2 linked regions of the Homo sapiens genome follow. The protein of the gene in region 1 purifies or fractionates together with the protein of each later gene. This does not show direct contact. Each region holds a gene or a part of one and is shown on either strand. Other genes may lie near its edges.

Region 1 (3,500 bases):
GGCTCATGCCTATAAACCCAGCAGTTTGGGAGGCCAAAGCGGGTGTATCGCTTGAGCCCAGGAGTTCGAGACCAGCCTGGGCAACATGGCAAAACCCTGTCTCTACAAAAAATACAAAAATTAGTCAGGTGAATGGCCGGGCGCCGTGGCTCACGCCTGTAATCCCAGCACTTTGGGAGGCCAAGGCGGGTGGATCACGAGGTCAGGAGATCGAGACCGTCCTGGCTAACATGGTGAAACCCCGTCTCTACTGAAAATACAAAAAAATTAGCTGGGTGTGGCGGCAGGCACCTGTAGTCCCAGCTACTAGGGAGGCTGAGGCAGGAGAATGGCGTGAACCTGGGAGGCGGAGCTTGCAGTGAGCTGGGATTGCACCACTGCACTCCAGCCTGGGCGACAGAGCGAGACTCCATCTCGAAAAAAAAAAAAAAATTAGTCAGGCAGCAGGGTGCAGTGGCTCACCCCTGTAATCCCAGCACTTTGGGAGGCTGAGGCGGGGGGATCACTTGAGGTCAGGAGTTCAAGACAAGCCTGACCAATGTGGTGAAACCCTGTCTCCACTAAAAATACAAAAATTAGCTGGGTGTGGTGGCGAGCACCTGTAATCCCAGCTACTCAGGAGGCTAAGGCAGAAGAATCACTTGAACCTGGGAGGCAGAGGTTGCAGTGAGCTGAATTCGTGCCACTGGACTCTAGCCCGGGCAACAGAGCGAGACTCCATCTCAAAAAAAAAAAATAGCCAGGCATGGTGGCATGCCTGTAATCCGAGCTACTGATGAGGCTGAGGTGGGAGGAATATCTGAGCCTGGGAGGCGGAGGTTGCAGTGAGCCATGATTGTGCCACTGCACTCCAGCCTGGGTGACAATAGTGAGACCCTGTCTCCAAAAAAAAAAAAAAAAAAAAACCAAAAACAATATCCCAATATATGCCAACAGAAATAGAAGAATGGAAGGGATTTCAGCTCCAATGCTGCACTCGCAGATAGCCCACACCTAGAACACGCCATACAACAGGATAAAAAAAGAGCGTTTAGAGAAATATGCTTCTCACACATAAGCCACTATTAGATTCTGGAAGAGAAGGAGAGAGAGGGAAGATAGTTCCTGACAATAAGCTGAAAAAGAAGTTGTCAGGAATCAAAAATTTCAGTTACATTTAATGATCTACCCTTTATCAATTAAAAGAGATCAAAGAAATTCGTTTTTAGTTTGTCACCATTAACCCACTATGACAGTGGTTCTTAACCTTTTATATATCATAAACATCTTTGAAAAAGTAGCTAAAGTACAGGCCCTTTTTCTAGAACAATGTACCTATACATCATAATTTACAGGCAACTTCAGGGACTCATATAGCTTCCTCCAAAGCCTGAAGTTAAAAACCCTCCATAAGAAAAACAAGACAAAGAATAGTCAACGACAGTGGCAACTTCCAATTTCCTGTCCCCATGTTAGTTTTAAATTTTCAGAGACCAAATGATTTCAAAGCAACAAGTTTGTTCATTTGTGCCTTGGGGACACTTCTCCTCAGTGTAATTAAATGAAACAATAGTTCTGGGAGAATCACTTTCATTTAGTTCCTTAGTCAATAAGAATGAGTTATTCATTATCTGGTAGAAGGAACACAGTTATACCTCTATACTACAAAGGCACTGACTGATATGCAGAGATTGACTCAATTTTTTTTTTTGAGTCCTGTTCTGTCGCCCAGGCTGGAGTGCAATGGTGTGATCTCAGCTCACTGCAACCTCCGCCTCCCAGGTTCAAGCAATTCTCCTGCCCCAGCTTCCTGAGTAGCTGGGATTACAGGCATCCGCCACCATGCCCAGCTAATTTTTGTATTTTTAGTAGAGACGAGATTTTGCCATGTTGGCCAGGCTGGTCTCGAACTCCTGACCTCAAGTGATCTGCCCGCCTCAGCCTCCCAAAAGTGCTGGGATTACAGGCATGAGCCACTGCGCCCAGCCATCAATATTATGCTTTATGACCTCTCTTTGATATAAGACATTTGATACGCAGGTCGTGATTTATCAAACTGGCTCATTACCAAGCAGCCAACCAGGATGGTTAAAGATAAGGATCAGAAGAGGGTCAGAAACAGGTGCTGTGGCTACTGTCCTGCCACAGCACAGGAGGCTTGTATATGCTGGAACCTAAAATTTCCTGACTACTATAGACAGAAATCTCTTACATTGCTAAGGCCAGAGGCCTCATCAGCCTGAAAGGGGAAGGGGCAGTTGTAAAATGCCCAAGGCTCAGAACTTCCACGCAGAAGGACATTACATAGATCCCAGCCCCAGCTCTGAGAATGAGGTGCTAGTGGCAACACGGCATTCATAAGGCAAAGGGAAACCAAGGCACGCAGTACCGAGGCCACTTGAACCACTTGCAGCTGTATGTGCTGAGGCTGCTGGAGGCCAGACGCCGACTGCGACACAGGGATGTACTGAATTCTCTGGTAATCCCCTTGTGGCGTTCGGTAGTCTGTCGTTAAGGTCTGGGACAGTTCTGTCATTGCTTGGGTGAGCAGGTCCGTCGTCACCACAGTCTCTCCAGTGGCGCTGTCTGTAGTCAAAACCGCTGGGGTGGCACTGATCACAGCTGTCGTCAGTGGTGTGTGTATGGTGTTGGAGAGCTGGGCGAACTCTGGATGCTTCTTTCGAATGTGCTGGACCATCTTGGTCTGAAAAAGCAAGGCAAAAAACAAGAATAATTATTAGAATTTGTGATTTTCCGTTTTTCTCATATGTAAATCCTCCAAAGATTCCTAAAGTCTTTTATGTCTTAAAAAAAGAAAAATCAGAGCAACACTGACTCTATGCCTGTACTTCCTGGGGTAACATAATGCTATGAAAGCAGGGAAGAGGGTGGGGAAGAAGTAAAACCTCACCTGACCTCACACCATCAGCAAGGTCTCAATACCCCCCCCAAATAGTACCTGCAGCAATCAATCACAATCCCCCCAGCCAAAATGACCTCCTTTGTAAAGCCACCACGTAACTTTCTATGTGGTGCTTCCAAAAGCCTGAACTCACCAACTGCAAGCACAGAACATTCAAACGTGAGGCCCTCCGCAGGCCAAGGGAAAAGGAAAACAGCCAGCTGCTCGGGCTGCTGTACGGCACTAATTCTGGGGAGGTCCACAGTATCCTCTTTCCATTCTCTGCTGTGCTCTCTGTTTACAGTGACTAGGACAACATCTCTTTCAGTCCCCCGTCAACTCAGAAGGAGCCATCCAGGCCATGTGGATGAGAAGCCACCTTTCCTTAAGAGATTCCTCGCATGGCGGTTTTGACCTTAGCTTTAGTCAGAAACTCCCCCTACCTTGCTGCTGTACTGCTTGGAGCAGTGGGGACAGCAGACGGGAGGGGTGGCGATGGTGCCCGTCAGCTGGGTGTGTGTGCTCAGCATGGGGTCTGGCTCTCCAGGACCAGCGGGTCGGAGCTTCCGAATGCTCGGTGGGAGCTCTGCTCCTGGGTGGTTCTTCAGAATGTGGGCTT
Region 2 (3,500 bases), on another chromosome or scaffold:
CAAATCCCTTAGCTGAAATCATAATTGTTAACTCAGCTGCTGGTAAGATTAGCCTTGCATCCTTGATAATAACTTCTGGTTGTATAGGTTTAGTTTACAAATTATACCCATGGGCCTTTTCTCTTAAAAAAAAAATCTTTTATTCCTAATCCATTCATTTCAGGCTGAGTTTCATGCTTACATAACAAGGAAAAGGTGGAACCCAATACTTATACAAACACGCAGGCGTCTTAGGAAGATGTTTTTGTTTCCTTACCTCCTGAACGCCTTCCTTGAAGGTCTCTGAGAAGGTCGAGTCTGGAGTTCGCCTTTGAGCATTTGGGGCTTGAGCACCAGAGCTGAACTGGTCAGTATTGAGATTCCGATCGAAAACCACCACCCGCTCAGTGGGCTCAGGATGATACACTGCTGGGGGGATTCCCACAGCGAAGCCATGTGGCTGGGTTTCTGTCTTGATGGAGTGGGTAGGCATCGTTGCTATGGAGACAGTGACTGTCGTATCTGGAGCTGTCAGATGGCCTCTCTTATCAATGCCCAGCTGGTTGCCATGGGGAAGGACAATGTTAAATGGCACATTTTTCAGTACTTGCACTCTGTTTTCTCCAGCAGAGATGAGGGGCTGCTCTGTCACAATTGGTATGCTGTTTCTTTAAGAAAAGAAAACTGCTTTCAAACGCGATGCTGATGTAGTTCTTTGACAATTTTTATTTTCCTAATGGCATTGGGCTGTTGGGTCCTGTGCAATAACACTTGACAGAATAAACAGAAAACATCAAAACTACCCATTACTAGATAAAGGGAAAAAGGCTTTCTGGTTATCGGTCAAATAAAATCCAAACCTATTAAGTAAAATTTCATTCGAAATACTAAGGGCTCAGAGCTCTCCTCTAACAAGCTTTACTTTCCATAATCCTAAAAACAATTACTGTGTTTTACTAGAAACCTGAAGCTATGCGATCTGATCAACTGGGGTTACAGCATAGACGCCAGGGTCAAATTGCCTGGGTTCAAGTTCTGTGTCACCTGAGCAAGTTACTTCATCTCTTAGTAACTGAATCCTCATCTGCAAAATGGGGACAATAATGGCATCCATTCTCATCAGGTTGAGATGAGATGATACACTAAAAGGTGTATAATAATGCCTGACACACAGTCTTCAAGAAGTATGAGCTATTATTACTTGGTCACCACTTTTCCTACCACCTATGCCATTTGGCTTTCTCCTTTTTTTTTTTTTAATTTTTTATTTTTTTGAGACAGAGTCTTGCCCTTATGGCCCAGGCTGGTGTGCAATGGCGTGATCTAGGCTCACTGCAACCTCCGCCTCCCGGGTTCAAGCGATTCTCCCACCTCAGCCTCCCGAGTAGCTGGGATTACAGGCGCACGCCACCACACTTGGCTAATTTTTGTATTTTTAGTAGAGACTGGGTTTTACCATGTTGGCCAGGCTGGTCTCGAACTCCTGACCTCAGGTGATCCACCTGCCTCAGCCTCCCAAAGCGCTGCGATTACAGGCATGAGCCACTGTGCCGGGCCTGGCTTTCTCTTTCACCCAAGAAAACCTATTGTTACATTGCATCAGTAGACACATCTGCTTTTTATAAAATTAAATTTTGGTTTGATAAATAATTTGAGCAATACAAGATGATTTCCAGTGGGTAAAATGAATGAATTTTCAAAGCCCCCAGAAATCATATAGGCTGAAGCTTCAAGAAACAGGCAAATTGAGAATTCTGTACATTTCAAGATCAATAAAACTGTTTGAACCCTGAACCATAAATTCACTCCCAGGAATTTATCCTAAAACGGAAAAAGTCTAGAAAGTTGTTCCTTAAGACTTCTTAATAGTGAAAACTAGATATAGCAGCAATTGTAAGGATATTTACAGTTTGCTTCAGAATGTTCCAGCAAAAATAAATAAAATAAAAACATGAATTAATCTCAAAGTTGAAGAAGAGGGAAGAACAAATCAAACAAGAGGAATTGTGTTGATAACTGTTGAGGCTGGTCATGGATACATGTGGGCTTATACTGTTTTTCTATTTTTATTATGTTTGAAAATGCCCATAATGAAAAGTAAAAGATAAAAGCCACAAGTCCTCTTCCAAAGGATAATTATGAAGATTAAAATACAGAGAAAATGTTTATGAAACAAACTAAGTAGAAGAAAGTACACTACCAAATCCTATCTGTGAACACAACTACGCTACATAAAATTTGCATACACATCAAAACAATGAATAAAGCAATCATCACGATAATGGGATACTGGGTGATGATCATTCTTCCTTTAAATATGTTTCATTCCTTGATTGATAATAAAACACAAGACAATTTAAAAGGTGTCTTTTTAAAGTTTTTCATGGCTAGCCAAACGTTAATTAAATTTTCTGAAAGTTTTAATCTAAAATATTTCACAAATAATTTCAACAGGAATTTGAATACAATTTAACTTGCTTTATTCAATTTTACTCAGGCAGTTGTTCAAGAGTCACTGGTGCTTAATTTTTTTAATAGACCACTGCCACACATCCTTCTAAAGAAAACCTCAAAAACAAATAAGCAAATACTGAAGTTATTACTAAAACTATCCCTTTGGAGGAGGAGAATGTTAGTGCTTTCATCCTAGAAAAGGCAACTACTACGCCCAAAGAAAAAAGGAAATTTCAGAGCAACAGAGGCAAATCAGTGATGAAATCTGAATTTAGATAGTAAGAGTCCAACTTACCTATCTCTTTCACTAGTGGTTGTTCATTTAAACAAACTCCCATTTTGCTGTTACAGAAACGTGGCATTTCCCCCTGCACTCTTTATGCTGTTAGGCACTGAATGTTACCTTTTGCTGTGATCTGGCTCAGGGTGCTCCACCTCTGGCTTTGCTGTTGATGACCTTCTCTCTCTTGGAACCTGATATTAGCACACATGAAAAGAATTTAGCTCTTATCCAGTGAAGTGCAGTTTACCCAAAGATACAGCCTTTTATTTTTCAGTAAATTCAATCATTCATTTATCTACTGGTTGCCTAGCAAACACCAGGCTATGGGGACACACAAATTATAATATCTGCCCTCAACGAGCTTAAAATCTAGTCACCCATCTGGTTGATATGTAAAAAGCAACTGTTATTGAGTTGCCAAATAAACTCAGGGCATGATAAATTTATTTTGTCATGGAGTTTGGGTCTCATCTCTTAAAAAAAAAATACCTCCGCTGGCCACAGCTGGTGGCTCATGTCTGTAATCCCAGCCACTTTGGGAGGCCAAGGTGGGAGGATTGTTTGAGCCCAGGAGTTCAAGACCAGCCTGGGCAACACAGTGAAACTCATTTCTACAAAAAAAATTTTAAAATTAGCCAGGCGTGGTAGCATGTGCCTGTAGTCTCAGCTACACAAGAGAGACTGCGGTGAGAAGATCGCTTCAGCCCGGAGGCAGAGGTTACAGTGAGCAGAGATTGCGCCACTGCACTCTGGCCTGGGCGATAGAGCAAGACCCTTCCTGACT

What was found.
Region 2: the proteins of PRDM10 (region 1) and GRHL1 purify together in Homo sapiens (co-immunoprecipitation; one large-scale study listed by IntAct). This does not show direct contact.

What each region holds. Positions count from the first base shown.
Region 1 is NC_000011.10:129,912,336-129,915,835, forward strand, and holds part of PRDM10 (PR domain zinc finger protein 10), read right to left. Parts: coding exon 3,325-3,500; intron 2,684-3,324; coding exon 2,369-2,683; intron 1-2,368.
Region 2 is NC_000002.12:9,958,193-9,961,692, reverse strand, and holds part of GRHL1 (grainyhead-like protein 1 homolog), read right to left. Parts: intron 2,908-3,500; coding exon 2,837-2,907; intron 2,820-2,836; exon of another isoform or gene 2,729-2,819; intron 648-2,728; coding exon 257-647; intron 1-256. UniProt on the Homo sapiens protein: Transcription factor involved in epithelial development. Binds directly to the consensus DNA sequence 5'-AACCGGTT-3'.